5 separate regions of the Homo sapiens genome follow, and regions 1, 2, 3 and 5 are each linked to region 4. Evidence: fine-mapped expression QTL. A gene starts in region 4. Each other region holds a variant in brackets. All regions are shown on one strand. Distances are from middle to middle.

Region 1 (6,510 bases), 160 kb before region 4:
GAGAAAGAAGAGCTCCAGCTGGACACACCTCCAGCTCTGGGCATCTCCTTCCACCAGGGCCCTGTCTTGCCTTCCTGGAGCTGGGAGCTTGCAGCTGCTGGACTCTTTCCCCAGGGCCTTTCTGGAGAAGAGGTCCCCCAGGCAGGAGAGGGAGAAACAAGCACAGGAAGGATGGACAGTGGCTCTTCTGGCTCTTAGAAGGCTCTAGGGGATGGACTCTTGGGGAGGGGCCTGGGGAGGTGCCTGGGTGGCGGTGGGGGCGTTGCACGGCCCTTGTCACGAAGGGAGGTTCCAAGGGCATCTTCCCATAATACTGCAGTCTTTAGCCCGTGGCTTCACCTGAATCACAACATACCAGCTCCAGAGCCCCTCTGCTTCCTGCCTTCCCTGGCTCACCTTGGCCCTGGACTGCCAAAGAGCCACTGTCACGATGTCAGGTCAAACGTCTGTTGCCACCTACAAGTGAGCAGGAAGGGACACAGGAGAGGGGCGTGTCTGGAGGCACTCTGCAGCCCCAGCCAGCTGTTTCATGGAGGATCCCAGGCAGGTGCTGCAGCAGGAGACGAGGGAGCAATTACTCGGGAAAAGTGGACATCAGGGAAGCATCAGAGCCAAGCCAGTCCCGCCACCCTCCTCCTCTACGTGAACGGCTTTTGTTGTCAGTCACAGATACTGCTCCTGCCGCCTCTGAGTCAGGTTTGGGAGTGAGAAGCAACTCTTTAGAAAGGGGGCACCCCCGAAGAGGGCGGGATCCTCTGAGCCCACTGTTTCGACTGCTTTCAGAGGAGGCTGTGCTGGTGGCAGAAGGGCAAGAAGGCTTTTTTCAAGGATGAAAAACATTCCTGACCATTTGTACCACATACACCTCTGCCCGACCCCTGGAAAGGGTGGCCAGGAGCTGGCTGCCTTTGCTAAAGCACCATGTATATGTTTTCTGTTGTGTCTCAAGATTCAAAGCAAGGAGGTAAAAGGGAAATAATGAGAAAGGAGTTATTAAAAAATATGTCACACACTTGGGGAGTCAGAGTTTGAAAGCTGAATGCTCTCTGCAAAGTTTCCTCGTTAAGTGTTCCCATTTTGCCGGTGAGGAAACACGCCCAGAGAAGTAAAGAAACCTGCACGGGATCGCACGGCAATTAGTGTGGGGGCAGAGCCAGAGCTTCCGTCATCCATGCGTGATCCTGCCCGATCATTTGGAAAATCGGTTTTTAGCCGTGAGCCCGACTGCATAACTGGGCGGAGGTGTGCGTGTGTTCATGCTTCACACGTGGGAGTGGAAAGTGAGCATGTGTTCAGGCTGCAAAATGAGGGCAAGAGGGGCCTGGATTCCCCTTCACAAAGCAGACTGACCTGGTCAGCCACTCCGATAACCAGCTGGAACTTCAGCACAAACCATGTTCAGCTTTTATCACCAAAATAAGCAAAAGACTTCAGTCTGAACCATAGCTCACAGAACTGTGGCTGGGAACGTTGCTCCTCTCTGACCTTCCTGGAACTGCAACTGGGAATTCCTGCAGTCACAACGCAACCCTTACAACGATGTTACGACAGGATGTAAGAGCCCAGAGCGTGGTAACTCCAGCCTCCCTTCCAAATGGAACAAAGTCGAAGCCTTTCGCAGCTTTAACAGAAATGGGAGTGCGGAGCAAAGTTTATCAAACATGAAATGGGCATCTGGGGTTCAACTTGAGTACCCTCAAAGGGCAGCAGGGACAGGCATCTTATGGGGGAACAGCTGCAGACCTAAGATGTCTGGCACAGACCACCCGTGCAAGCCAGGATGGTGCTCTAGGCACATGGTACAGATGGGTTAAAGGTGACGGCCCAGCAATGAAACCGGGTGCTCTGCATAATCCCTGGGGAAAGGTGGTGGTGGGGGGAGGGGGCGGGGGGAGTGGGGTGGGAGTGCTGTTCTTTCAGCCACTGGATGTCAGCCTGAGCAAATCTCTCCAGGACAGAATCAGAACCATGTGGAAAGAATGCACGAGTTCAGGAGCAGGAATAAGAGGAGAAGCCGGGTGGGCATGGGCGTGGCTGGTGGGCACATGCCTTGCCTGGTGAGGAGCTTCTGTGTGGAGGGGATGCGTGTGCAGCCCTGCGTTGGCAAGGGGTGTGAAGGCAACATGGGCACAGCTGACATGCATGCAATGGTGGCGCTGCTCCAGAATCACATGTCATCACAAGAGGACTGGGATTGGGCTGTCGACTCTGACGGGCCTGAGCCTGAATTCTGGCTCTGCCTCCGGCCAGCTGAGGGACCTTAGGCAAGACTTAGTTTTTCATACCTGCAAATTAAGGTTAATAATTATACCTCCCATTCAAGTTTGTTGTGAAGGCTAAATGAGAAAAATGCATGTAGAGAGCTTGGCTTGTAGTAAGTGTTCAGTAATTGAGGACAGAAATAGTAAATGTTCAGTAATTGAGGACAGGAGCCAACATTTACTGAGCGATTACTATGTGCCAGGCACTTTACCGGGTGCCAGGACACAGGACAATGATGACTGACTCAGTTATGCCCTCAGAGCTTATGGCCTGAAGGACTAAGGCTGTTTTGCAAACTGCACTAAATTTCTGGGTGGAAATATGAACATATATACTGGCCAAGTGAACCAATTCCTGTTTTGCTCTCTGTTCTCCTTGATGCTTGTTCTCTGAAAATAACTGCTTATCGTACAGCAGATTCAACAATAACATTTCTATGAAGATAAGTGTTTCCTGCTACCACCAGCATTACCACCATCACTATCATCAATACTTGCCCTGTCACCACCACCATCACTATCATTATCACCAACATCACCACCACCATTACCATCACCATCATTATCACCATTGTCACTACCATCACCATGATCATAATCACCATATCACCATTATCACTAACACCACCACCATCACCATCATGCCCACCACTATTACCATGATTACCACATCATCACCATCGCCATCATTACCATCATCATCGTCACCATCATCACTATTATCACCATCATCATTGCCATCACCACCTGTCATCATAACCACATCACCGCTGTTATCATCATCATCTTCACTATTGCCACCATCATCATTTTCTCTTCATCATCAACTTCACGCACATTGTGAGGCACTTAGTATTTGCCAGGCCCTTTGTTAAGCCCCCTACATAGACGATCTCATTGATGTTCAAGTAGCACACTTTTTTCATGACAGCATGGGCCAGCAGCAGGTACGACACACAGGAGCTTGTTAGAAACATAAATTCTCAGTCCGCACCAGACCCACCGATTCAGAATCTGCATGTCAGCATTATCCCCAGTGCTTTGCAGGCATGCTCACGTTTGAGAAGCCCTGGCCCAGATAAGAAGATGGCATTCAGGAAGGCACCGTGTCTCAGCAGAAAGTGACTGCTTTGGAGAGAGTACCCCCATCACCTTTCTCTTTCCCCTCCTTTTCCTTCCCAGGGACCCCACTGAACAATCCTTCTGACAACCTCACTAGGCCAAGAAAACAAAGAGGCAGAAAAAAATGGCAATATTTTTGTGAGGCAGAGAGAGAGCTGGGAGTGGAGAGGACAGTGAGGAGGGAGCTGAGTCATGACAG[A/G]TGGTGAGCTGGCAGCACCCCCCAGAGCCATGCCTTTCATACCATTCATATCCTGGAGTCCCTAGGGAGGAGACAGTGGGGACCTTCCTGTGATGATTCCCCTGGATCAGGGTATGTCTGGGTGGAGACGAGCTTCCAGAAGCCAGGGGAGGGAAAAGGGGTCAAGGACGGCCCCAGACACTGCCAGTCCTCACTTGAAAGCAGATAGGACATCTGATGGGGAAGCCTGCACCCCTAACAATGCTTGGGTTCTGGAATGAAAATCAAGTCCCATTGACAAAAGCAAATCAACATTTTCTGAAAGTTCACAAAGTCGTAACTGTACCCCCCAATATGCCAACAAACGATTGGTATTAACAAAGGCTTAACACTTGGAATGTAAGAGTTTTTGATCCATAAAGTGCATCCTAAGATATTTTTTCCCCATTCAACTTCCATTAAATGCATGATTCCAAGAGATCGTTTCATATAAGACCAAGAACTGGGTGCTGAAAGAACAGAAGTGAAACAGATTTTCAAAAAGTAACTTCAAATGTACAATGTTGGGCTCAGATAGAAGGATTTAATTTTTATAAAACCCTAAGAAGGTTTAGTTGTATTTTTAAACATATGTTTTTTGAAATACTTAAATAGAAAACATCCTACTCATAAGTCTATTTCATACCAGAATGAAATCAGATAATTAGAAATCATGTTTCTAGTAGGGTATTTTTACACTCTGGAAATATAAGACAATTTCCTACTAAATGAAACACTTTGTTGCACATTTTTGTCCTTCCTCCTGGAGCTTTTAAGTTCTGATTATCAGGAGGAAGGGGTGGACTTTAAATTCATCCTTCTGCCCCCAAACCATGCTCTGCAGTAGACATGGGCCAGGCCTCCCACCCATGTAGCTGAAGCTTCTGATATGTTCAAGCCTCCTCTTTTCTTTAAATAAAAGTGGCTGTTTTCTTTGCAAGTATAAAATAAACCAAATGTAAATCCAGTGATTAAATGCAGTAAGATTTTATAGATTAAGGTTAAAAAAAATTCTTACTGGCAGTGTGTACAGAGGGTTGTCAGACAATATAAAATCAATTGGTATGGAAAGAAAGAAAATCCAATACCTTTTTGTGGTTCCCCTGTTTACCAGGAAAAGAACAAAACAAAAGAGAAAAACCTGAGATGACCACGCTAATGGAAACACTTCTGCAGGGAGCCTGGGGATTTCTTTACCCAAGTGATCACATGTGCAGATGCCCTCAGAGCCTCCCCTTCCCAGGAGGCGGGCAGGGGCTTCCGGTGGAGGGAGAGGAACCAGGAGGTGGGCAGGGGCTTCCGGTGGAGGGAGGGGAATCTAGGAGGGGAAATATTATCAATTGGCCTGAAAGTTCTTAATTTGCCTTTTGAGAAAAAGCCTGTAGGAACCAAATTCCAATCCTGTTTGACTCCTGTGACTTCTCAGCCTCAATTCTGGGTTTGTCTGGGCATGGCAGTTCTGAGGATAAATTATGTTTGATGCATTTGAAGACTTTCATTCATTTTAATGGCTGCATAATTGTAAGAGCCTTTTAAAATTGTTTGTAGAATAAAAAAGTTATATATATTAACTTGAGAAAATTATAAAGAATAAATTTCAAGTCTCCAATAAAACACATTAGAAAATATTAATTAGCATTGAATGTATCTATTTCCTTCCATTCTTTCCCTATACATGTGCATTCTCTCCCTCTCCCTCCCCCTCCCTCTCCCCCTCTCTTCCTCTTCCCCCCCACTGTCTCCCTCCAGTCCTATTCTCTTTATCTCTCCCGCCTCCTTCCCTACCTTCCACTCACTCTTTCTCCTTCCTCCAGTTGCAAACCTCACTTTTCCTTTGGGAACCCCCTTCGTGCTCTGTTCATGCCTGCTGTTCAGATGGAGCTCTGCCCCGTATTCCAGTAAATGCTCGAAGGCATGATTGTTAATCTCTTACTGATGTCATGCTTCTGCGCTTTCTATTGAAGACTCTCAAGGCCCTTGTGACCTGGCCGCTGCCGCACTCTAGTATCCCACATGCAGGTGCTCAACGAGTTGTGCTTCTCCAGCAGTGTTTGGCCCTTAAGGTGTCAGTCCACATCCTTGGCTTGGCCAATTCCTACCTGCCCTTTATATGTGGCTAATTCTTACTGATCCTTCCATTTTGGCTGAGCTGCAACTTCCTCCAGGAAGCCTTCTTGTGGTACTCTCCTTTCCTGTCTTACCAAGCCCAGGGAAGGTTCCTTTTCTGTGTGATCTTCCAGCCCCCAAAGCACTCATGGCATTGGGCTCTTATGGCCAAATTACTTATCTGTACCTCAGATGCAGGGTACACTCGTAGAGGGGTCAGGGACTGGATCTGTTTCTACCCGCCCCTCACACCTTATATTTCCTGCAGCTAACACTGCTCCTGGCATTTATCTGACGTTCAATACAACATCTTCAATGCCTATCATGACCACACTGCAATGAATATACTTTTGCATATGCCTTGGGATACACTATACTTTCCTGAGGATAAATCCCTGATGTGAAACTGCTGAGTCGAATGCTGTATGTTTAATATTCTTAATATGTATTTCTAAACTGCTCTACCAAAGGGTGTATCCATTTCCACTCTTCCAAACTGTGTAAGAACCCACCCACTCTCCTGAAACTCCATCAACACCGAATTGTAGTTTTTAAAAGCTTTGCCAATCTGATAGATGAAAAATATGACCTCATTTGAATTTTCATTTAAGTATAAATCAATTGGAATGTTTTCCCACATATTCATTAGTCATTTGTACTTTCTTTGTGATTGTCTTAAGCCCTTTTTAAATTCAGTGTGAACGTCTTTTGCTTCCTGATTTGTAAAAGCTCATGATATATTCACTATATTTATGCTGCCAATATTTTTTCCATTGTATCATGTGCTCCTTGTCCTTGATTTGG
Region 2 (6,510 bases), 280 kb before region 4:
GGATTTCCTGAACATTCCAGAATGTCACCTTCATCACTAAACCACTCGTCTGTTTTCCAGTCTAGGATGTCCTCTTTCTCCACGCAGCAAGCAGTTATTAAGTTAGAATGGTCCAGGAGAGCCAAGACTTCAGCAAATGAGGAAGTTGCCACTGGCACAGTCGTTGTTTTCTGGACTGAGACACTTTCATTTGTAGAGTTGAAAAACTGAAATTTAGAATTGTGTAACAGAGCTGGGAGTCATCTGTTCATAGACTTGGAAGCACCAAGTCTCCCAGGGGGCCTGGGTATCTCCTCCAAGGTCTTTGGCGTCTGCTGGGGATGGACAGGGATGTCAGGGCCAGGGGTAGCTGTGTGCTCAGCAAATCGGCTCTCTCCCTGCCAGAAACACAAGGACAGCCAGGCCGGCAAACTCCACGGAGTCCGTTAGGACTTTTCCGAGGCACAGTGTTTTTTAATTACCAGTGCAAGTTATTAACAAACCCCTAATTGCTCATTTTTGGTTTTGCAAACTGAAGCAAGATATAACCTAGAATAAATGTGAAGAAATACAAACACAGAGGACCCAAACACATCCCTTTTTTAAAATGGGGCTTCAGCAATTTCCAGTTTGGGTTTAATATAGTTTATCATTTCCTTTTGCTCCCGAGGTCTAAGAAGAACTCGTGTTTTCTTCTCGTTGGACAGTCTGAGGATAGCCTGAGGCCGTTGGGGCAATGGTCCAACTCGCTCACCTTGGAGTGGCACCTGCGCTCCCAGCTCAGGCACCTAAGCCTTCCGCCCTCTAGGCCAGTGCGTCTCAGTCCCACTTCATGTTAGGATAACTGGAGGACCCTGGAGAATATCTGTGCCTAGGCCCTGTGCCAGGTCAATCAAATCAGAATCCCTGGGCCAAGGTGTGGGAATCAATATTTCCTAAAGTAAACATATAAACAAATAGACAAACAAACTCCCCTCCAGGGGTTCTAATGTCCAGTCTAGACCGAGGTCCAGTTCTAACTGCCGTGCTATCTTTGATGTCTCCTCTAAGACCCACCCTTCATCCCCCCTGCCAGGATTTGCCTTTCACCAGGATTCTCCTGCACCTGGACTATGGGATAAAGTTGAATCTGCAAAGAGTAACTACTGAAAACACATCAACAGGCAGGGGTTGCCAGGAAGTTTGACCTGCTTCAAAGGTGGACAAGGGCAATATCATCCCAGGATATCAACGGCCATGTGGGTTTTTCTGACTTCCAGAAAGTTCCATGTAGCCATAGCCTCTCTCTGAGTGGCAAACCCAGATCTCTGACTGTTCAGAGTGCCCTTCAAACTCCTCTTCCTGCTCCCCCTTTCCTGGGGTATGAAGCATCGTCTACCTGCCCCTCCACTCCAACGAAACTGGCGGTCATGTGGTCTCCCACTCGCCCTCAGCCTCTGCTTGGTCATCATGAGGTCCCGGGACTCACAGTAGGGGGAGTAGAGTCAAAGCCAAGAGCCCCTGCTGCTGGGAGTTGGCAAGACTAGCACTCATCCCTCGTCCTGCAAATGAATAACCTCTGCCCATCTCAGCCTCCTCTGCTTTAAAAATAAGAACAATAGTGTGTACCTGAGAGTGTGTGCAAAGCACTTAGAGCCCGGCACACAGTAACTGGTAAAAATAATAATCAGGAAACACATCCCTTCGAGCCTCTCTCAATCCTTGTCCTTCTCACTTCCCCACTTCCCCTGCCCTGGGTCAGGTCAGGCCTTTATCCCTTCTTTTTCTTCTTCTTCTTTTTTTTTTTTTTTTTTGAGATGGAGTCTCGCTCTGTCACCAGGCTAGAGTGCGATGGCGTGATCTCGGCTCACTGCAACCTCTGCTTCCCGGGTTCAAGCAATTCTCCTGCCTCAGCCTCCCGAGTAGCTGGGACTACAGGCGCATGCCACCACGCCCAGCTAGTTTTTGTATTTTTAGTAGAGACGGGGTTTCACCATGTTGGCCAGGATGGTCTCGATCTCTTGACCTCGTGATCCGCCCGCCTCGGCCTCCCAAAGTGCTGGGATTACAGGCGTAAGCCACCGCGCCCGCTCAGGCCTTTATCATTTCTATGCAATAGGCTCCTCTCAGCCCTATTTGTCTTTGGTTATCCCACCCTCCACACTAACTGCAGGAATATTTTTCTACTATCATGTGTGTCTCTCCCCTGCTTAAAAACATTCACCTAGCTCTCTATTCACTGCAGAATAACATCAAGATGGCTTCGTAGAACAGCCGGGGCCTTGAGCACCGTGAATCTTTGCAGCTTCATCTCCTCCTGCCCTAGCTCTGCATGCATACATTTGCATACAATATGAGCATGCATGTACACAAACACACATACATGCATGCAGGGCACACACACGTATGAACACACACATGAACACATATAGGAACACACATGCATGTACATGTACATGAAGCACATACATGTCCACATCACACATACTCCTTCTTCTGCTATGCTCACAGTGAAACTGAACTTACCTTTGAGGATCCTCTCCCTGCAAAGACTCCCTGGCCCTGGGAAGAAGTAAGTGATTCTCTTCTGCATCCCCATAAACCTCCATTCATAGCATGGATCTAGTTCTTAATGCCTTGGACCATGCTGTGTGGGTTGCATGTCTGCTTCCCTACACAGCCTTGACGTTCTCAAGTGGAGGGACCACATCTGATTCATTCTGAATTATTGATGCAGAGTGCATAAGGTCTTGTAATATGGAGCCGAATTTCTGAAAGGACCTTTGCCTTCATTTTTCTGAAAACTTAGAGAATGCAATTCAAATCGAATAAGATTGCTTGGAAACAAGGCTAGAGTGAGGCACCCTCACAAACCACTATGTGTAAAATCTGCTGTTTCAGAGGACCATGGATGTGAAAGGCTCAGCCATGACCAGATCCCTTCTCACACTGTCCCCACAGGCAAGAGACTCAGTATTGCTGAGAGACTATGGTTGCTTTAGGACAGCGGTCACCATCCACATTGCACATGAGAATTGCTGGGGAGCTTCTGAAAATTCGAGGTCTAACCTCCCCCCCGCCCTGCCCCTTGAGGGCAGCAATGCTTTCAGAAGCTCACAGGGCAACTCCAATATGCGGGGCTTGTGAGAAGCCTATTTTAGGCTAAGGGTCGTCAGCA[G/T]CAAATAGCCAACATCCTCTCCAGCAGGATACACTGAGGAAGGACAGGTGGTTTAGACAGAGAGCGCTGCCATTTTCTTTGCCGGCCCGCAGTGTGAGGAGCGGTTAGTGAACAAGTACCCCAGGAGTAGGACCTGGTTTGCAGGGGCTCCTCCAGCAAGGAAATCATCTTTGTGAAAGGTGAGTTTCTGACCTACTTGTTCTTGGCGAGGGATTTTCCAATAGCTGATTTAGCTGAAAGTCAACTTCTGTGTTCCAGGACAGTGAAGCCTATGGATCCCTTATAAATGCAAGCCCACCCTCAGGGTTACATTGGTACAGGCCTGCAATGATGGGGACAGATTGAAGGGGCCTGTGGGATCCGTCATCGGGAGACCTGGGAGAGGCCCGGCTCAGGAGGAATCCAAAGGATCAGGTGAACTCTGTAGGGGTTCTGGAGCTAATCGGGAAGTCCAAAACACCCTCAGACTGGTATTCCACCTGACCGGAAGAGAGCCTGGAGGAAGACATGTCACCAAGGCCACCATAGTCCAGACTGCTGTGGTTTGGCATCTCCTGAAGCTGCCCCAGGACCCAGGAATTACACACTCAGAGGACAGGAAACAGTTCCAAACCAAGGCCCAGAGGCAGAACCTCATCTCCTTGCTAAGTCAGATGAGGTCCCCCAACCTCATTTCCAAACATTTACATGATCTGAATGATTTAACTACTGAAAAAGAACTTACCTTGTCAACGTGATTAGCAATCTCTATTAATCGCTGCTTAACTTTTTCCAGATCTTTTCCTTGCCTCTGAAACTTAACAATTTTAAATGGCAGCATTAATACCAGCAAGAATATCAATCACGTTTCATCTTCCTGGCTTCTGGAAATGTGAAGTCTTGGGATTTTACAAACCACTGGGGACCCTCCACAGTTCACGGTAAAATGAGCTTGCATCCTGCCGACTAACTTTCCCGGCTGGGGACTCCCTGAAATTCCCTGAAATTTGCCTAAGCCAAGTGCTCTCAAGACAGCAACTTCTGCAATTTTCCAGCCTCATAAATGATGGAGGCAGTGACTTGTTTTGGCAAAGAGGAAACAGACAACTAGAAGTCAGTCCAAAGCCATTTTTCATATCATCAACTTGATTTTAACTTCCTGAGAAATTTTCTTTATATTTGTTTTTAAAAATTAAAAAGTAAAAGTCATAGAAGCTCATGGCAGCTTGTCAAACAATACAGAGGAGAATAGACAAAAAAATCAACAAATTTCCCATTCCCCTCTCTAATCTGACCTTCCAGAATGGGAATCATTTTCTGAAAAATAGTCAAGCCTGTTTCATTCATAGGTGTTGAAAGAGTCTATGAGAAAATATCACCCAATCACCCAATTCATATATGCCAATGAGGCAGTAAATACAGAGAAGATAATCTTTAGAAAAACTAATTCAAAATTAATTAAAATAAAAAATGAATGTAGTATCAAGCTATAGCTCAGAGGGGAGGATTTTTCTGCTGTGTCTCTATAGCCTTCATTCATACCTTCATTTATTCATTTTGATTAATGACATATGGGATATTTTTTAAATGTCCCATTTTAAAGACTAAACTTTTCCCCAAAATGTTTTAGAATATAATCTAAAGCCTTCTGTCATTCCTCTCAGTTAATTCTCCTTGTTTGGAGAGCTGAGCTATAGAGCAACTCTGTTTTTTCCTGCAGGCTTTGCCATTACTTTATATATCAAATAAATTTTTAATATTGTATGCTTTATAAAATCAGAAAACCATTGTTTCAATGGGTTGTTTCCATTGCTTTTAAGAGCACATAGGAAATGAGGTTCATTAAAGCAAGTAATAACTTGCAAAACATGTCCTTTTTTCTTTTATCTCTAACCAACCATACTGAGAAATTTTAAAAAGTTCTTACCTCTCGGTTGTCTGCCACGATCACCAGCTCCACATACTTAGTTGCCTTGAGGGTCTCTCTTTTATGCTGCCAAGAGTAAACATGCACTTAATCTCTCTTAATGCCTCTCTGGCATTAAGACTGTCAATGTCTCTCAATCTAAACACTTTAGGTTGAGAATGTATATCCCCCATCCCCGCCAGGCCCCCACACCTCCATTCCATCTAGAAGTTTACCCCAACTCCAACCAACTCTTTGTAAAACCTTCTCAACATGAGTAACCAGCTTCCATTTCCACTTGGAAAACCCTTAAAAAGGAGTTTAAGCTTTCTGCTGAATCATGGATTATTGGAGCAGCAAATCAAGATTATTAAACAAAACGAGCACATAAACAAACAAAACCAAAGCACTCTCTAGAACAGGAGCCAGTCAAAAGTCATTTATTTCAGACCACGTGTAGGTCTTCTCTGATGACCACATTTGAAGGTCATCAGAGAAGACGACGGAGTTCAATGCACTGTGGCTGTTCCCTTTGTCTTTATGGTCCAAGTGTACCTGTTTTGAGACTTAAGAAAAGTGGAGGAGAATACATTTTGAACAGGAACTGTATAATCATTTTTTAAATGATAATGTAAAAATCTAGTTAGAAGCAATGGAAGACCGGGGTGGTCTGGAGAAAAGGAAACTGTCAGACTAATGAACAGAGAAGTGAGAAAGGTATGAGGAGAAAAAAAAAAGAGCAAAGAGAAAGAGAACGGAAAGAAACAGAGTTAAGAAAAAACTAAGACTGCAATATGCCCCTGGAGAACAGGGATTTCGTAAGAGTGAGACAGTTGAGAGAACATGGAAAGTGGATATGGAAGTGGATGAATGGAGATGATTCAGGCAGCAGAAATAGGAACCCCGTCCCCCACAAAGGCAGCTCCTGAAGTGGATCACATTTTAATCAAACTTCCTCAAAAAGCATTCACACTCTTCTGTGAATTACTGGAAGAATTCCAAATGCATTTTTAAGAGAAATAAAGCAGTTCGTGGAGGGTGGTCTCAAAAAGCAAACATTAAAAACAAAAAACAAAGCCTTCTGTTTCTGCCATAAAATGCAGTTGGAGGAAGTGGGGGTTAAGTTGGTCTTTGGTCCTGATGACTGATATTGCTGGTTTATGAGTTAACTACACACACTGCTTCAAGTTTAAAACTTGCATGTTATAACCACTCTTTCAGACAAAAGCAAAAGAAAATCACAAAAGTATGCTTTGAATCAGGTTTCCAGTCACATAATCCTGAGGGAAACATCTTTTATAAAACAAATCCCCATCAGTCCGGGATCTTCCAAACAGACTTTTACAAGAAAAATGTTTGTATTATAGCAGTGTTCCTTCTTGCTGCCCAGCTGTGCTAATTCATGAATTTAGGTGTTCCTAAAGATATCTGGAAACCTTATGGAAAAGGAAAAATAAAGCACCAGGAAAGGTACAATTTCTCATATCTT
Region 3 (6,510 bases), 250 kb before region 4:
CGGGTTCAAGCAGTTTTCTGCCTCAGCCTCCCAAGTAGCTGGGACTACAGGAGCATGCCACCACGCCCAGCTAATTTTCGTATTTTTAGTAGAGATGGGTTTTCACCATGTTGGCCAGAATGGTCTCGATCTCTTGACCTTGTGATCCACCCGCCTCGGCCTCCCAAAGTGCTAGGATTACAGGCGTGAGCCACCGCGCCCCCGGGCAGCTTTTCTCTTCTTTACACACAATGACCTTAATGCCAAATTGAAGGCTGAAAATATCCAGCCTTCAACACATGACCTTTGAAGAAAGAGGTCCACCTTTCAGGCCCCAGAGAGGCACAATAGTAAAGTGTGGATTTCCCTTTCCAAGTGTGTGTGGTCCTTACTACCATGGCCTTGTGTATCTCTGCCCTGGTCTCTACAGGAGCTGCAAAGCTTTGCAAGGAATTATCCCAGGAGTGCTGCATGAACACCCCCCCCCCCTCAACTAGTCCAGTCCCAGAATCAAAGAACAAAGACTGTCTCATGATGCTCACTAGAGGTGGGCACAGGGCTTGGCTTTCCTAGAGGTCACTGCATTTGTTTACTGTTTCTCCCCTGGCACCCATCACAGGGGAGAAACAAACTCAAACTTTGTTTGAACATGCAAACTTCCCACCATGCAAACTGGGGCTCAGAGAGGCCCAGTGACCTGTCCATCGTCACACAGCTAATTCACCACCCTGACTATCATGTTCTAGGGTGAGAACATCTACCTGGGGTCCCAGAGTATCCATTTTGAATTGGTCACTCACCTTCACCTCAGATGCCACCAGGTCTGATCCCATTTCACCCCCTCATCTCTGTCTCCTCCAGGAATTCAAGCACTGGTTTTCCATGAAAACTGGCCCCTTATCCCCCACAAGTCTTTAATCCTCTACTGACCCTATCCCCACTCCCTTTTCCCTAACCCTTTCCACTGTGCTCTTGGGGCTCATGGTCCATCCTCAAATCCTATCCTGATCCAAATCTCTTCCAGAATATTCCTCTTACCTCCTTCCCCTAGCTGAATCCTGGCTGATTCCACTGATATCACCTCCCCTGCAGCCTCTCAGGATGATACTTCATTACTTAAAATTTCTCCCTCATGTACCTCAGCTCCTTGGTGGTGAACAGTTGTCATCTTTGCTCTAAATTGTCACTTCCAAACTCTCCTTCTTCACCTTCTCCTGAGCGCCCACTCTGCATGCTGGGCGTGTACGCGTATTGGAGTCCCTGCCTGGTAGTGGATTTTGCTGCATCTTCAGTAGGTCCTTTCATGTGCTCACACCCCACGCTTCCTCAGGAAAGTGACTTTAAGACACAGATCACTAACAAAATTTAGAGTCGCCAGCCTCTCTAATACCCGTGGAAAGGTCTCTCGACTCTCACAAAAGTTGCCACCTTTGACCAGGCCTGCCCCACCACCTCTTACCAGAGTTACTCTGAAGACACCTACCCAAGCCTCCGCTTCTGTGCACATTCCCTACAGTCTATTTCCAGCCTGGCAGCTGGAGTGCCCCTGTAAAAATGTGAAGTCAGACCACATCACTTCAGCTCCAAGCTCCCTGGCACCCATCACTGGGGGGGAGGCCAAAGGACATCTGATCACCTTCGTGACCCCTGGTGATCCTACCTTTCCACTTCCCTTCTGACCTCATTTCTCTCTACTGCCTCCCTGTCCCTGTCCACTCTAGTTATGCTGGCCACCTCGCTGCTCTGGGAATATCCCAGGCATCTTTCTGCTTCAGGAGCTTTGCACATGCTCTTCTCTCTGATATGCTACCTACCTCATCTAAAGGGCTCACCTCACCTCCTTCCGAACCTCCCTGACTACCTGTTGCCTTTCCTGTCCTCCATCTCAGCTTTGTCTTTCTCCATGATCCTTGACATCATGTATCTTACTCTATGTCCATTGTCTGTTCCTTCCACTAGGAAGTGCTCCAGGAAGAATGCATTTTGTTCAGTGCCGTGCCCCCAGAACCTAGAACAGAACTGGCAATGAGGAAGCACTCAAGGAATGTTTTCTGAACGAATGAATAACTGAAGAGAAGCAAATTCAAACCACAAGGCACCTCCTTCACTTTTCAGAGTAGCAGACATCTTAAAGTTCAATTGTGTTGCATAAATAGGACATAAAAATGCTTTTAAAAAAATGCAGGTATGCAGAAATGTGTGTGTGCATGCAAATGTGTGTGTTCACTCAATGATTTGGGTCTGTGTCTGCTAACTTGGAGAGACAGACAGGGTTGGGTGACAAAAGAAAGCCGTAGAATGATGTATATGATGTGACTCTATGTTTGTAAAAATAAACAAATACACACCCCAATCTCTGACTATGTGTTTACATGCACAAGGGATGAGAAAGCTGGGAGGGGAATTCCCAGCTTGCATTTTTATCTGAGTGGGACTGGAACGGGATGAACGAGGAAGAGGAATAGCTTTGTGTACTTATTTTTAGTTACATGAAAGGACCAACGCTGGTAAATACTTAGAGATAAATCAGATGTATTGAGCAATGGGGAACATGTGAGCAAATAGAACTCTCATTCTCTGCTGGCTGGAGTAGAAGTGAGGGCAGCAAAGAATAAACTGGTAGGTGTGTGGTTGTTGTGTGTGTCACATGCATATTCTCATCCTCCATGATCCCACACAGAACCTGCAAAGACGTCACAGGAACTGCTGATGCGCAGAATGTGATTCTGCTTTTTAACTCAAGCAGGTATATCCTTCCAGGGCCTTCTCTCTCTTCCCTCCCATGGAATCATGCTTTGGTGCCTTGGGCCAAAGTTACCCAGGACTCTGAGGTTACAAACATTTAGTTCACAAATTCGATAAGCAAATCCAGTAAAAAGGCTGAAACAGCTGGAAATTTATCAAACAAAATGATTTTCCTGGGGAGCACATAAGGGCCACCTGATGGCCAATAACTGTGATGTGGAAGGAAGCGGGCTGTGAGTAACACCTGGGGTTGACTTGTCTAGCATGGGAAGGTAATTGTTTCCTGCATCATGCCCGTAGCATAGTAGCAAACCCCCTACCAATCCATGCCTCTATTCAACTCACCTTGGTTGTTGCTAAATTAGTTTCCTTACTTTGTTTCCTAATGAGAGGAGGCCCTTTAAGATTTACATTAAGCCAGCAGCTTCAACATTGGTATGTAATGTTCTATCTTTTAGCACTGGGAATTATAAAGCATCAGAGCCACATAAATGGAAAATAATTCACAAAATGCTTGGATGTAGAAACTCAACCAGTTCAGTCGCTTTTACCCCACCAGGCCTGAGGATGGCACTGTAAGAGGGGGCATGAACATGAGGCTAAGATCCTGGGTGGCCATGCTCTTGTAAGCAGTGGAGAGAGGGCCTCCGTGTTCTCTTGCCTAGGTGGAGGTGTAGCTGAGC[TG/T]GGAGCCCCCATCACTCACTCTCAGTGCTTTAGCACGAGCAGGAAAAGACAGAGGTTGCCTGCAGTAGATGGCTGAAGACTAGAGCCGCCATGGTCATGGCCACTTACCTGAGACCAGAACACGTGCTGAGACTGACTGCTGAATCAGAATATCCCCGTACATGTCCATGGTAGTAACAGTGACCCTAAAGGGGAGGAGGAGAGAATCCCATTTCAGTTATAACACATTTTTGCCCACTTATAATAAATCAACTGCCTCTTGTTTTTAACTATAGAATTTTCCATTGCATAAAATATTGTTCTACAGTCTTAATATTTAATGCAAAGCCCAACATGACCCAGCCAGGGTCTATGTCGGGAATATCTGATTTACTTACAGATTACCAACAGCGGTTTTTAAATGAACCCTAGTTTCACTCTTGTCTCTCTGGCACCCTACAGGAAAGCCCTGATACAGAACGTTTTACAAAATCCAGCAGCAAAACAAATCACATTGACATCGCCATTTTACCCTCATGTAAATTGTCTTTTGTAATGAGATGAAGAACTGTAGGGGGTATTTAAGCACACTGTGAAATGTAATAAAACAAGGCCTAAATCTGTGGCTTATGAAAACGGGAAAGCAGATGAGAGGAAGTGGGGGTGAAGAAGGAAGGAGGGGACCTCACTGAATTACCCAATTGAGAGCTGAAAGTCTATCTCGGCAGGAAAGAAAAATAGGAAGGTCTTCTAAGTCTAAGACAAAAGTTCCCGTGTGTCATGCCTGCAATATTCTATTCTTTGATAATGTCACAGCTTACAAAAAGAAACCACAGCACAGACACTTCCTTAGTGAAGACAGATATCAGTCCGGAATCAAGGTTAATTTTATCATCGAGCAAAGGTTATGCTGCAGCCCCAATTAAGTGGCAGACTGGCAAGAAGTGGCTGAGTATACTCAGTACTCCTCACTCAGATCCTCTGGACGCCAGCTGGGTGCAGGTCTCTGCAGAGAAAGGTACATGCATCTTCTCAGGGTTTCCTCTGAGAAGCTCCTCTTTTGAGCAGCTCAGGTGTTAGTCTGTCTCCACTGCACCCTCCTTAGCACACAGCTCCTTCACACACGACAACAGTCATGCACTTTGTCCAGCGCAGAGCTTGGTGTCCAGTCATTCTGCCCAACAAAACCCACCTTGACTTTGCTAAGAAAAAGCACCAGATGCAATTGAGTCATGAAGAAAACCAGACACCACCATGGGAAAGGGGCTAAGATGATCTCTTGGTCTCAACGTAGATGACAAAATTCTCAGATCATCTAAAAGGCGATGAAAGGAGGGTGATAGGGTTAAGGGGTTGCAGGGACATTTATTATTCTGTTGAGCTTTTTCATATTAATTTTAGAAGTTCTTTATATACTCAGGATATTAATACTCTGCCTGTTATTACATGGGAAATGTCTTTTAACTTTGCTTATGGTATTTTTTGTTCAGAGTTTCCAGTGTATATCAATCTAAATGCATTTGTCGCTCTCTTCATGCATTTTTTGCATAGCTCAAGGTGGCTGTTTTCAGGGTCACAAATATGTTCTTCTTTATTTTCTTCTATCTTTATAGTCTGACAATTAGCTCTTTAATCCATCTGGAATTAATTTTTGTGGGACTGTGAGGTTCAATGCTAACTTTCCCCTAAAAATGAGAGCCAGCTGTGCTTTGCTGCCATTTTTCCTTTTCTCACTGATGTGACATGCTACCTTGGCATATATCAAAGGCCCACAGTATGTTTGTGGTGCCACTTTTGTACTCTCTGTGCTAGCCCACTGAGACAGACATCCATTTGTCTGTTTCTGTGCCAATTCCACACTGTTCCAATGACTATTGCTCTATACTCTATTTTGATATCAGGTAGAGTTAAGTTGTCCTTTAAAATTAAGATTAAATTCACTTGCCATAAAACTCACCTTTTAAAAGCATATATAATCAGTGGGTTTTGTTGTATATTCACAATATTATATACTCATCACCACTAATTGATTCTAAAACATTTCTGTCACCTCAGAAAGAAATCTCATATTCATTAGCAGTCACTTTCCATTCCCTGCTCCTCCATCTCTGGCAACCATTAACCTGCTTTCTATCTCTATGGATTTGCCCGTTCTGTTATTTTATAGAAATGGAATCATACAATAAGTGCCTTTTGTGACTGGCTTCTTTCACTTAAGCATGGTGTTCTCAAGTTCATTCATACTGAGGCATGCATTAGAATGTCATTCCTTTTCTACAGCTGAATCACCTTCTGCCTTGTGGATGAAAACATATTTTGCTTATCCAAGTGTTGAGCACATGAGTTGTTTCTACTTTTTGACTATTATGAGTAACGTTACTATGAACACATGTGTACACATTTTTGTAAGGATGTGTTTCCAGTTCTCTTGGATATGCACTATGAGTAGACACGTGGGTCTAAAAGTAAGGTTGCTGGTTATATGGAAACTCAATGTTTAACTTTTTAAAGTACTGCCAAACTGTTTTGCCAAGCAGCTGAACCATTTTACATTCCTGTGAGCATTACACGAGGGCTCTAATTTCCCCACATATTCACCAACACTTGTTATTGTTTATCTTTTCAATTATAGCCATCCTAGTGGATATAAAGTGGTATTTCAATGTGGTTTTGGTTTTAATTTTCTTAATCACTAATGATGTTGGGGATCTTTTCATGTGTTTATTGTCCATTTTTATGTCTTCTTTGAAGAAATGTCTACTCAAATCCTTGCTTATTTGTAAATTGGATTTTGGTGTTTTTATTGTTGAGTTAGAAGAGTTCTTCACATATTTTCAGCACTAGACCCTTATTAGATATATGATTTACAGATTTTTTTCCCATTTTATGGGTTGTCCTTTTACTTTCTTAATTTTTATTTTATTTATTTATTTTTTTTGAGACAGAGCCTCGCTCTGTCACCTAGGCTGGAGTGCAGTGGCACGATCTCGGCTCATTGCAACCTCTGCTTCCCGGGTTCAAGTGATTCTCCTGCCTCAGCCACTGGAGTAACTGGGATTACAGGCACATGCCATCACACCCAGCTAATTTTTGTATTTTTTTGTAGTGATGGAATTTCACCAT
Region 4 (6,510 bases):
TCAAAAAAAGTTGTATCTTCCCAACACCCATCCTCAGGAAGTTACTGGAAAACGTGCTCCACAGAAATGAGGAATGAACTAAGAAAAATTTACAGTGCTCAGAATACAGATGATTCAACACAGGAAGGATGCAAGAGGAATTCTTAGCGTCTTGGTAATAAGGGTAGTCCTGAGATAACAGCTGTAATGTATGCCTAAAAAGTAACCCGTGAGTCACATTGGAACAGGAGGATGAGGGGCTCTAGGAAAGATGACATCAGGAAAAAAAAAATCATGGCTAGACTACCTGATGTGTTGGATCATATTGAAAGGAGGTTGATAGTTCTTCCAGAAAGTGTGGAAGTAAAATAGAGGTTGCGTAAGGGATGGGAAAAACCAAAAACCAAGTATTCTCCCTACTCTCACTCTCAGTACCGAATGTTTCACCTCTGGTCACCCAAATGTGTGGGAGTTTCTCCCCACCAACCACCAGTTCTTCAGTAGAGATCAACTGGGAGTCCTACAATTTAACTCTATTCTGACTCTATCTACCTGGAGAAAGCATCAGATCACACAGGTTAAGGGCTCAGTCCCACAAGACTTCCCCCCAATGTCAGATGCCAATCACAAGTAGTAGGTTGTCACACCTATACTTCTGACCAACTAGCTATAAGTTGGGGGTCCACAACCCCCTTCTCAGGTTCAGTTAATTTGCTAGGTAAGCTCACAGAACCACAGAAAACACTTGCTTATATTTACCAGTTTATTATATTAATGAAGGATGTAATTAGGGACACAGATGAAAAACAGTTGGAAGAGATGCAAAGGGCAGAGAATGTGGAAAGGGATACAGAGCTTCTGTGTCCTCTCTAGATACGCCACCCTCCAGGAACTTTGATTTGCTCAGCAATCTGGAAATTCTACAAACCTTGTCCTTTGGGGGGTTTATGGAGGCCTAATTACACAGCCATGATTAATTACACCATTGGCGATCAAGTCAACCTTCAATCCGTCTCCCCTCCCTGGAGGTTGCAAGGGAGGTGGCACTAAAAGTCCCAACTCTAATCATGCCTTAACAAGCTCATTAGCATACAAAAGACACTCTTAATACCCCAGAGATTCCAAGGATTTTAGGAGTTCTGTGCCAGGAACCAGGGGCAGAGACATATTTCTTATTATATCACAATATCACAGCTTGGTGCACAGAAAATAAAGCAAACAAAAATCAAGACAAGGCAATCATTAACTCTAGGAAAAGCAAAAAGTTACAAGAGGGATGAAATGCCATAAAACACTGCACGGCAAAACAGTGAAAAGTATTTGCAAAGTCTTCTTAGTGCAAACATTGAATTTTTTTTTAATGATGGCACTACTATATTGGGTAGTTGAAAAGAAGAGAAGGCAGTGTGTCTGGAGTAGGGTGAGCAAAGGGAGAATGGTAAGAAAGGAGATCAGAAAGGAAAACAGGAATTAGGTCATGCTGAGGTTTGGATTTTCTTTCCTAAGGGTGCTAGAGAGCCACTGGGGAGTTTTAGACAGGAAACTTGAATGCTCTAACTCATGTTTGAAAATAATAACTTTGGCTCTATTGTGGAGGAAAATATACCATGCAGGGATAAGGTGAAAAGCCAGTAGGCCCGTTGGGTAAGAGGGATAAGAGGCTTCTGCAGAAGAGATTTTTCCTATAATGTGGCCTGGACTGGGAAAGGCACACTTCGGGATGTAAGGAAGTGGGTAGGTGGGAATATACTTAGGAGGTTGGTGGCTTACGGAGTAAAAAGAGGGACACAGGGATGACTTCCTGCATGTCAGCACAAGGCATGTGGAGAAGGCAGAGGAGGTTGTTACTGGGTTCAGGAAGGCTGGGGAGGGAATGATTTGCAACTAGAGAGTCTGGGATCTAGGGTTCTGTTTTGGACTTGTTAGGCCGAGTTGCCCCAGAAAGTACCAAGTAGGCAACTGTGCCAGGGCTCAGGGTACAGACAAGGCTAGGGAGAAACTCAGAATATGCTCAGACTCAACAGGTAGTAATTCCTCCTTTTCTCTTGCCAATGCAAAGAAATGTTTCATTATATGTTTGGCGTTTTATACGGCCTCAATGGTATGATTTGGGGCACTGATTGATTGAAGACTTGATACTGAGAATCTAAGGGTAAACAAGCAGTGAATCCTGGAATATATCACAATAGGTAACCCATTCAAAGTGCTTAGGCCTCCCTGGTTTTCTATTTTGGGTCATATCTGTCTTAAGGAAACACTCTCTCTACCAAAGCTGAACTCATAAAATAGTAAAAGTCCTCCCCCGCCCACACACACAAGAAATAATTTCCCATTATTAGCTGGATTTAATAAACATTTTCTTCCAAAAAAAAAATTTGTCCCTGCTCAGTAGACTTCTCTTTATGTGTACAAAGCACGTGCCAAGTTAAAGACCATGTCAGGCACACTTTGAGACACTTTCCGTTTTTTAAAAAGTTCTTTCTTAATAAACATTCAAAAGGACCAATTTGTTTAAAAGTCTTTCAAAGCACAATTCACTACAGGTCGTAGAGTTCTTTAAACCCTCAGCAGGATTCTTTCTTGACTTTCTCATTGCTTTGTGCAATCTTTGTATTTAATCATTTATCCCCGAATTGGTCTTCGCAGTGTGGCTTTTAACAAGAACTGGGTTTTAGCCACATTACAGTAGACGCGGTGGGGGCGGAGGGCAGCAGTGGCAATCGCAAAATAAAACGTATCATAAAGTGGTAACGGTTCGTGATTTAGGCCAGTTGTTGAAAAATAAATGCCTGTTATATAGAATCACAGAACTTGAGAGCTTGCGGCCAAGGGAAGTCGTTCATCGGTGGACCGACAGCGCCCCGGGCGGCAGAAAGAAGGCGGCGGCGGCGGAGACCCGGGGAAGTTGCCGGATTTTTAAAAAGGCACCTGCTGGGTGAGTCCTCACTGTGCAAACGGGAGCCACAGGTGCCCGATTTTAAGGGGCTACAACTCGGGAAAACCTAAGTCTGTAAAACTAAGTACGTTAAACTAAGTAAGTTCTCGCTGTGCACCAAGTTGATGGGGGCGATTATTTACGGCGGAGAAACTGAGTGGAGGAAGGAGGGAGAATTCCGCTAAAGTTTGCCTGCGACTGACAGCTAGGGAGTGACCTGGAAGCCAGGAAGAGGGGCAGAGAGGAAACTAAAGAAGTAGGTAAGAGAGTCAGTTTATGAAAATAGAGCCTGCTGTGGAGAGCAGCAGGCACACCTGCGGAGGAGGGGGCTGCCTCACCTGCGGGGCCGCTGCGCGCCCCCCTAAGTGTGTTAGCGGGGGAGGCGGGGCTGGAAAGGAAACCTGGTGAAGGGCTGGCCCGGAGCCTGGGGTGGGGATATTCACTGCGGGATAGGGCCAGCAAGAGGACCCGACACGCATCGTCCCGAGTGACACGTGTAAATGTCAAGATACAGAGACATCTGCAAATGTCACCCAAGAGGGTGAGGACGGGGGAGCGGTCCCGAGGCTGTGCCCTCCGGGGCAGGTACTGGCTCCTGTGGGGCTGCGGGCCAAGTGTCGCCCTTCCCCAAGGAATTGGCACCTGGGGGGGGGGGGTCGGTCTCGCCGCGCTGGAAGCGCAAGCCCCGGGGCTCCGGAGATGCGCCGGGGCGCGTCGCCCCTCGGGGCAGCCCTGGACCTCGGCGCGCCCAGGCGCAGCGTGCGGTGCCCTCGGCGGGGCGGGCAGCGAGCCGCCCTAGTTCGGCGACTTACCTCGGGCCTCGCAGGGCGCGAGCAGAGCACCGGCCAGGGCGAGCAGGAGGGCGCGGGCGGGGGACACGGGCAGCGGGCGCGCTGCCATCGTCGCCGGCCTTCAGTGCAGCAGCTCTCGGGCCCGGCGGCGAGCGCTGCACCATCCCACGCGGGCGCCGAGCCGGGGCCGGGCGTCGCGACCGGAGGGATTTCCTGCCTCGGCGAGTCAGCTCCGGAGCCCTCGCGCAGCGCCCGCGCCGCCGCTGAGCTCTTCTAGCCTTTCATTTTTAAAAAAGTTTCCCCCCGTGTGTGTGCGTGCGTGCGCGCGCGCGCGCCGTTCTGGCACAAGCCAGCCTTGACCGTTGCAATAAATGAGCAAACTGTCCGAGTTGGCCCGGGGACTAGGAAGAGCGTTAGTGAGAGAAGGCAGGCCTGTGAAATGGATCCACGGCCAGCAGTCACCGTTCTTATTACCGCGGAACAAATTATTGTCTCCCCCGCACCCCCGCCAGTTGGCGGCGTCCCGCGGGTCCTAGAGACCGCTCGGGTCCCCCCGCCAGGGTCCCGCCCCGAGCCGCGGCTCGCTCACCCCCGAGGGTGGGCGGCTCAGACGTGGCTCAGTGGCGTCCGGGCGCCCGGAGCGCACACGTCCCCGCCCCAGGATGATGTGGCCGCAGGGCCCGGGGCGCCCGGCTGCCAAGCGCACATGCGGCGGCACGGTCCAGCTTTTCAGGCTGAAGCTGGAAACGATGACTCTGCTACTCGCTCCCCGGCTCTCTGGGAACCCTCGGAGTGCGGGTCAGGTCTCCACCGCGGCCCACAGCCCGGCGCGCGACCCCGCCCGGCCCTAAGCGCCCAAAGGGGCATCTCTCGCCCGAGAAACAAGCTTGGACTCGCAGGCACAAGACACCTGGGCGTTACTTTTGATCAACAGTGTTAGGTTTTACGTTGATAGATTGGCTCACGTTTCCATTCCATGACCTGGACCCAGAAAAGGGTGTACAGTGACGTTCCCCAAACTTTCCTGATTGTAAGAAGCACCTGGGTTGGCTTGTTAAAAAGATTCCCGGGCGCCCTCCTACGCTTTCAGAATGAGACTCTCCAGGCTGTGAGGCCAGGGGAGCCCAGGGTGTTTGGAGAAACACCAATGAAAGAATGGTGCGCCTTGCCTTCTCATCCTTGTTCCGGGCTGACCCCACCTCTTCAGCCTCGCTCGGCCCTCAGGGAGACCATGAAAAGCAGCAGCGAGGGGGCCCGCACAGACAGAAATGGCTGGAGCTATGGAGGATGGCTGATGCCCACCCTGCGGGTTACCATGATTCCCAACCTTGGGGACTTATTAGAATAGTAAGAGTTAAAGACATTGCCAGCCCCAGACACCAGTTAACTCAGTTTCCCACAATGCGTGGAGCTCAATAGTTTTCAAAGCCTCAGGTGATTCTACTGTGCTGCTCAGACCTAGGACCACCTGCAGAAATTCCATCCTGGTCCTGCGACCTCGCACCGATTCCTGACGGAGCACCCACTCCTAGGAGGCGGTTATCCAGCATTTGAGGAAGCTGCCTTCCATACCATCTCTTCCCACTGCAGAGGAGTTTTCTCAGGAGTTCCCTCCCACGGCAGGTTTTGCAGTGTTCCCAAAACCCAGGTCGATCCTCCTAACAAGGTGCAGGACTTTCTTTTTAAAAAACCTTAGTGGGAAGCACAGGCTCTCCAGCCCCCTTCCCAATGCTGCCATATCTCAGTACCAGATCTGGAAACCAGGCCTGGTTCAAGCCCTGTGTCATATCTAACCGTACTACCAACCAGCGTTGCAGTGTACTTCTTTTGTTCATTCATTCAGTCAATCTACATGAGCAACCCTATGTTAGAACTTGGGAAACTAAACGAGAAAGCCTCTTGCCTTCAAAGACTTTTCTTTCTGATCAAACTGATAAATCATCATTATTGGACAGTGTGAGCTAGTTACTTAACCTAGTTAATAATGATTAGGCTTGTTTACTGATATGGTTTGGCTGTGTCCCCACCCAAATCTCATCTTGAATTCCCATGTGTTGTGGGAGGGACCTGGTGGGAGGTAATTGAATCATGGGGGCAGGTCTTTCCTGTGCTGTTCTCATGGTAGTGGATAAGTCTCAAAAGATCTGATGGTTTTAAAAAGAGGAGTTCCCCTCCACAAGCTCTCTCTCACTTTCTGCCTGCTACCATCCATGTAAGACATGACTTGCCCCTTCATGTCTTCTGCCCTAGCCATGTGGAAATGTAGGTCCATTAAACGTTTTTCCTGTATAATTTTACCCAGTCTTGTGTATGTCTTTATCAGCAGCACGAAAACAGACTATTTACTACTTCATAATTCATTACATACCTCGTATAATCGGAGTATTGTGCTAACGTCTTTCACCTGCATTATTTCATTTTTTAAGTCCTGAATATACAGATGAGGAAACTGCAGCATAGAGATGTAGCTTTCCCACCACCACACAGTGAAGTAGGTCAGAGCCCAACCTCAGATCTGTTAAAGATAAAGCCTGTTTCTTTAAGGCTGAGTTCCAACCTTCAGTTTTAGCAGCTGTTAAGTGAAGGTAAAATACAAACCTCCCAGGTGGTTGTGAGCACCAGGTGAAATAATGCAATGTCTCCCAACCCACCTGATCCCTGGGATGTCTGTTAAGAATTCAATTCCTCTGGCGTTTGCACTGGAGATTCTCATTAGAAAGGTCTGGGAAGGACAAGTTTTAGCAAGTACTTAGGTGATCCTGATACTTGTGGCCCATAGAACTTCAGACACATCGACGCAAGAGA
Region 5 (6,510 bases), 95 kb before region 4:
CCAGCTGACACCAAACCCTGCCAGGCTGTGGGACCACCTCCTCAGACCTCTGCTGCCCCGTGCCCTCTCCCACTTCCAGGCATCTCTGCCAGCACCTGGCTGCCTGCTGAGGACCATCAGATGCCAAGGCGGGGAGGCAGAAGGCCGAGGCCGGGATGAGTCTTTCCTGTCAGCCACGTACCACCTGGGCTCATAAGGACCACTGGTAGCCCCAGTGCCATGTGCCTGGCATCCACATCCACGGGTACCAGCCCCTTGCAACGTTCAGTGTCGATGCCAGCTGCACTGGAAAGCAGGGCTGATGAGGAGGTGTGCTCACCATGGGAAGAAGGCCTAGGCTGGGTTCCAAGACCCAGTTCATTTCAGCATCCTCGGACCACCCCAGGTCTTGGAACACCCTGATCAATTTCTAGGAGCATCCTAGGTTGAAAGTTTATGGAGATGCAGCAATTCCTCCTCTTTTGACTGCAAAGGAACAATAATTTTAAGCAACAAAGAACTATTTCATTTTGGAAATGTAGCATTTTTCCATTTAAGAGGCTACAGTAGGAGGGGCCTCAGGCTAGAAGGCTACGGTCAGACGGCAGCTGTGGGCCATGGACTGAGGGCCAATCTTTTAACTCTGCTGGACCTCAGTTTTCTTACAAGGAAAATGGGATAACAAAACGCTTTTCCTATCATTGTGGTCATAGAAATGACAGTCCCCAAAGATGTGCTAACCCTTGGAATGTGTGCATATGTTACCTTACTTGGCAAAAGGGACTGTGAAGATGCAATTAAGGTTAAGGACAGGGACCTCACCCTGGATTATTCAGATGGGCCCAATGTAATCACAAGCGTTCCTGAAGGCAGAGAATCTTTCATGACTGGGGTCAGAAAGATGTGACAAGAGGGCTTGACCCACTGTGCTTACTCTGAAGGTGCCAGAAGGGAGCCATGAGCCAAGGAACCTGGTGTCTCCAGAAGCTGGGAACCGCCCTCAACCGCCAGCAAGAAAATAGGAACCATGTTCCTACCACCACATAGAACTGAATTCCGCCAGTGCGTCAAGGAGCAGGAAATGGGTTCTCCCCCAGAGCCTCCACCAAGAAGGAAGTCCTGTGGACACTTTGTTTTTAACCTGGTGAGATTTGAAGCAGAGAATCCAACCATGCCCACTGGGCTTCTGACCTTGAGATTTTGACTGTGAGATAATAAATGGGTGTCATTTTAAGCCACTTAAACTGGTGTGATTTGTTATAGCAGCACTAGACAACTGACTTAATTAGTATGATCGCTATGAGATTCAAATGGTAAAAAGGCTGTTTGGAAACCATCATGCGTGACAAAATGAAAATGCATGCTTATTACAGAAATCCAATCACAAATCAAACTGCTACTGCACAGCATGACAGTGACAAGATACCGTTTCACTTATTATCGATTGCTAATTTCCCAAATTGCACCCTTTTCATGCTTTTTATAGTTAGATCAAAATGGGCATAATAAATGACGCTTCAAAAATTTTTCAAAAAGGAATATTATACATTTATTAACTGAGGGCCTATTTATGAGCCAGGCACTGGGTCCAGTCCTGGGTTGATAGCTGAAAGCAGCTTAGCTTTCCCCCTTCTTCTATATGGGAAGAGGCTCTTACGTACTATGTGTACGACCAATCATAGAAGGGGATAGAAGGTACTAGAAGACCTGTAAGATGCAGCACAAAATATGTGAATGTACTTCATTTTGGTGTAGAATGTTTTAAGCTAATACTTTCTAATGTATGCTTACTGATATAACCAGGGACATTAAAATATTATAAAAGCACAGAGCATTGTTTTTGGAGTGGCCTCTGAGGCCTTCTAAGACACAGCCAGTGGTAGAATAGCATGGACTGTGTTTATTAACCAGAAAGCTTGCTTCCCATTCAAAGTGCATTTATATAACTAATTTGATGTCTGGAAACATTCATGTACCATTTTTTTTTCCTACAACACATTTCAAAACTGTCAGTCAGGGGAAGTTAGCTTAAGTTGCTAGTTTGTTTGCATGCAAGCTGTCTTCTAGAAAAATACCCCATTCATATGTTGACTAAAATCCATTTATAAAGCATCACTGTAATGTCTTTCAAATAAACATTAGCAGAATATACTAAGCCCTTTAAAGAGTAATCCTGCTATCGATCACAGAGGCACCGCAAGTCACTATGTACTGAGGCCGAATGCAAACAAGTTTTTCTATTACAAACAGAATTACAGCTAATTGCTAACTTTTTAGAAAACACATTCAAATTGCACCATGAAAACACACACTACAAGCCTCATAAAGATCTTGCAAAGAGAATTCTCATTTCATGGCTGCAGACAAAAATTGAAGTTAGAGTGTCACTTGCTCTTCCCTTTGCTTGCCTGCCTGGCTGTGTCTTGAGGCATTCATGAGAGCCTCAGCATCAGGAGGGAGATGGCACGGGAGGAATGGGACAGAGGTGCACGCTGAGGCTGGAGGAGAAGCTCCACTGGAGTTGGGAGATGGAGTCAGAAAGCCCAGGGCTCGGGGGGTGATGGATGCAGCTCTGGGATTGAGGACTCAAGGCAAAAGCAGATGAAGGACTTGAGAAGGACTGGGGGTCATCTGGCTGTGTGGCCCCTTGGAGCCACCACGTTAACCAGACTATCACTTCACCAGGCTTGCAGGGCTTTGCAACCTTTATGGGTATAACTTTCCATTTCAACCCAGTCTGGCTCTGGGACAGAGACATCCTCAATCTGTACACTTTGCTAATGAAAATTGGGGTTCAGCTTTTTTTTTTTCCCGTTGAAACATTAGAAAAATCAGCCAGTCATGAAGCCCAGACATACTTATGAAAAACTTGGTCCTCTATGTAGAAGATGCTCGACGCCAAATCTCCAGCTCTGACTGCTCTCTTGAGCCCAGCACATGCATTGCAAATGCCCCACAAGCCACAATCAGCAGATCTCTCCCTGGCAACTCAAAGGCTACAGTGCTGAAAACTCACCAGCTCATTTCACATTTCTCCCGACTCCCCCGAGTGCATTCCTCATTTTGTGACCCCCTTGTTTTTCCTATTGTCATCATCATCCTTTTGGCTCCCATTGGTACCCTCTTCTGACTCTCTTTTTCCTCTCGGTTCCAATGTTGAATTAGTGGCTGAGTTTTGCAATTCCTTCTCTGGAGTACCTCCACAGTTCCTTCTATTCCTGCAACATGGCCCTCATTCCAGCTCTCCCCTGGCTACTCTTTCATCAGCCAGTCCTGTATATTGTTCCCTGAGCTGTTTTATTAATGCAGGGCTCAAATAATTCTTCTGCCCTTCATATATAAAGCCAAAGTTGGGTACAAAGCCAAGGTTCCTGAGCATCCCAGGCTCCTCCACCTGCCTCCTCTTCCTCCATCCCATTCAGTGCTCTAGAGCAGGGTTGATGCACATTTTCTGTAATGGAACAGATAATAAATACATTAAGCTTTGTTAGCCATACAGTCCCTGTCATGACTGCTCAACTCTGCCACTGCAGTGCAAAAGCAGTCATAGATCATATAAATGAATGTGGCTGTGTTCCAGTCAAACTTTATTGATGTACACCAAAATTTGAATTTCCCATCATTTTATGTGTTACGAAATATTCTTTTGAATTTTTTTCTCCAGTCATTTAAAAAGGTAAAAAAAATAAAAATAAAAAATCTCAAACACAGGAAAGCATCAAAATCGCCTGGAGTGCTTATTACAACAGATATCATTGCGCCCACCTCAAGTTTCCAATTCAGATGATCTGGGTGGGGCCCAAGCATTTGCATTTCTAGCAAGTTCCCAGGTGATGCTGATGCTGC[T/C]GGTCTGGGGACCACATTGCAGAACCATTGTTGCTCGACCAAGTTTCACAGGCCAGCAACCCACAAGGCTCCTTCAGCCTGTAGCTCTATCACTGGCATGGCCCCAAAGTGGGCGCCATCCAGTGCTGTCAATTTGATTAAGTTGCTAACACCTAAGAGTCAGGAGAATTCTCAGACAAATCTGGATGTGCAGCTTCTGGGAGGGGAGAAATACCAGGAAAAATGGCAACCCTTGGTTTCTACTTCAATGGTAACAGTTGGCTAAAACTAACTAGAGGCCACCAATTCTCCCAGCCCCACCTGCCCTATGGGATCCACACATGGAGCCCAAGGGGCAAAGCTTACCTGTCATCTTATGTCTGGCTAGCTTCACTAGTTTGTAACCCTGGCCTGGCCCCTACAGGTATTGACTTCACAATCCCTGGCCTCAAGTCAAACAGGATGATGATGTGGGATACACATGAAACAAGTGAATGAGCACCCCATTTATTTTTATTTATTTTGTTTTTTGAGAGATGGAGTCTCACTCTTCACCCAGACTGGAGTGCAGTGGTGTGACCTTGGCTCACTGCAACCTCCACCTCCCAAGTTCAAGCAATTCTCCTGCCTCAGCCTCCTGAGTAGCTGAGATTGCAGGTGCATGTCACCACGCCTGGCCAATTTTTGTTGTTTTTTAGTACAGACAGGGTTGCACCATGTTGGCCAGGCTGGTCTTGAACTCCTGACCTCAGGTGACCCACCCACCTCGGCCTCCCATTTCTTCTTTTGCCCTTCCTTCTAGTTCCTAAAATACTCCCCATCTTCCACAAGGCCCCTTCAGATGCCCTGGCCTTTAAAACTCTCCATGAAGGCCCAGGTAGAGCTCTTCTCTCCAATCTCTGCTCTTCTAACTATACTGCCACATTTTACCTGAAATGTAGTTATTTCTGTTTACTCACAAACACTGTCTACCCACTGGGCTTCAAGCCTCTTGAGGCCTCAGGCAACTTTGAAGACCCATCAATGTGCCTCAAGCATTGCTTCTTTGTATATAGAAAGTATGAAATCAATGTGTTTTTGGATCAACTGTATTAATGCCTCATAAAATGCGCTCATCCCTTCATCAGATGCTGACAGGGCAGAACCTGACACTGTGCTAAGTACGGGCTGTCCACCCTGAGAGTCAATCTTGATTTTTGCTACAAAGTCAAAGTCATCATTACATGGAATAAGTGGATATACTAGAATTTTGGCTGTTGATTTGCTGACAAAGTATTTAAATTCACCCTTAACACAGATGAATTTCAGACCAAAATAGAAAATGTAGTCCTTGCTGAGGATGAGGCTGGAATGATCAGAAGTGTGTGATCACCAAAACCTTAGCGTATTTTCAGCCTTCGTGGATGATCCCAACTGAAACTAAACCACAGGAGTGAAAATGTCACAGCATTTAAGGGGTCACTGTGGAAACTGCAGGATTTCTCCCGCGACAGTCTCGGCTGTTCAGGTTTCCTCCCTGTTCTGCTAGGAAGAGGAAAGGATTGCTCCATTCCTAAGAATGACCTGACTTAAATGATGAAAAACTGGGTAAATAATCAACTTACTTGGACTATAAAACTAATGTGGACTTGAAAAAAAGGAAAACAGAGGAAGAGTCAAGACAGCTAACAGACGTAGCACGTGGGTGTGAATAACTTACAACTGACCAACATGATTTACAACCAGTAAGAACCAAAATTCCATTATTTTCTAGAGATATCATGTCATACAGAGATTCCTGAACTCCTACAGACAAATCTTTTATTTGTAATGATTTCAGAGAAAATAGTTCAGAAAAGATTTCTGATGCATTATTAACTAGAAGAAATTTTGTATAAACAAAATTGTGTGTAGATGTGTGTGTGTGTGTGTATGTGTGTGTGTGCCTGTGTGTATTCTCCCTAAGTATACAGTAGGGTCTTACCTAAAGTTGCAATGGAATAAGGAAATCCAAAAACTGTTACATGATCATCAAGCTTAAATGAAAGGTTTCCTTGCTAATTTTTTACAAATGGAAAATCCAGGCTCAGTGGAAAATAAAAGGAAGTGGTCAGTTAAACCCATCAGAGCTTCAGAGGAAACTATAACTCATTTTTTTTTAATATTATAGCTTCCTCTCCCTCTCCCCCCAAAAAATAGAATCACATAGATCTGGGGTCAAATCTAAGCTCCATCACTTACTAGCTGTGTGATGCTTTGGTCATTGTTAGCCTCTCTGAGCCCAGTGTCCCTCACAGGTAAGTCATACTATGCCAGCTGGGAGGACTAAATGACATAGTTTCTATCACAACTTGGACAGGGATGGCACATAAGAAGCACTTCATGTGACTGACAATAAGGATTACACCACACTGCCATTTGTATTGGTCATACCTCTGCTCCTTTTGTCTAAGAATATATTTCCGTTGCCCTGCAATCCAGGAAAACACTACTGTTCTTACAATTGAATTTTCATTTTGCTGCAAACCATAACATCTTACCACAAAAATACACACACACACACATACACACACACACACACACACACATCTCTGTTCTCCTATTGGAAGTGAGAAAAAGAATCACTCATAAGAAGTTCATCCAAACTGACAATCATAGTTACCTGAATAAGAAAAGTTAATAAATGTCTTCTCAATAACTCTGGGGGACTCTATCCTTTACCATGAA

Alleles and levels. Positions count from the first base shown, and alleles are read on the strand shown. Sizes are in standard deviations (SD) of each study's normalised expression. Not every link is listed here.
For the expression in fibroblasts of the gene that starts at base 4,146 in region 4, allele G in region 1 goes with a lower level than allele A (small effect, 0.23 SD a copy in GTEx).

The links. PIP is the estimated chance that this variant, and not a neighbour inherited with it, causes the effect.
Region 1: its variant is the best candidate, but not a certain one, in a credible set for the expression of ADAM12 in fibroblasts (GTEx, PIP 0.61).
Region 2: its variant is the best candidate, but not a certain one, in a credible set for the expression of ADAM12 in whole blood (TOPMed, PIP 0.52).
Region 3: its variant is the best candidate, but not a certain one, in a credible set for the expression of ADAM12 in whole blood (TOPMed, PIP 0.81).
Region 5: its variant is the best candidate, but not a certain one, in a credible set for the expression of ADAM12 in testis (GTEx, PIP 0.52).

Annotation. Positions count from the first base shown.
Region 1 is chr10:126,224,316-126,230,825 of GRCh38, forward strand. All of the region lies in intron 3 of ADAM12 (ADAM metallopeptidase domain 12), which reads right to left. Among named protein-coding and RNA genes, the nearest start is that of ADAM12, 160 kb to the right of the region's middle. The variant A/G (reference allele first, on the strand shown) is at 3,583.
Region 2 is chr10:126,104,733-126,111,242 of GRCh38, forward strand. ADAM12 (ADAM metallopeptidase domain 12) reads right to left here. Exons shown (of 23, transcript NM_001288973.2): 7 at 5,043-5,108; 8 at 3,861-3,932. Among named protein-coding and RNA genes, the nearest start is that of FANK1-AS1, 130 kb to the left of the region's middle. The variant G/T (reference allele first, on the strand shown) is at 3,137.
Region 3 is chr10:126,132,068-126,138,577 of GRCh38, forward strand. It overlaps ADAM12 (ADAM metallopeptidase domain 12), which reads right to left. Exons shown (of 23, transcript NM_001288973.2): 5 at 3,517-3,593. Among named protein-coding and RNA genes, the nearest start is that of FANK1-AS1, 160 kb to the left of the region's middle. RefSeq lists an enhancer at 3,111-4,310. The variant TG/T (reference allele first, on the strand shown) is at 3,408.
Region 4 is chr10:126,384,332-126,390,841 of GRCh38, forward strand. It overlaps ADAM12 (ADAM metallopeptidase domain 12), which reads right to left and starts at 4,146. Exons shown (of 23, transcript NM_001288973.2): 1 at 3,727-4,146. The coding sequence starts at 3,814.
Region 5 is chr10:126,289,201-126,295,710 of GRCh38, forward strand. The region is part of intron 2 of ADAM12 (ADAM metallopeptidase domain 12); the gene reads right to left. Among named protein-coding and RNA genes, the nearest start is that of ADAM12, 96 kb to the right of the region's middle. The variant T/C (reference allele first, on the strand shown) is at 3,826.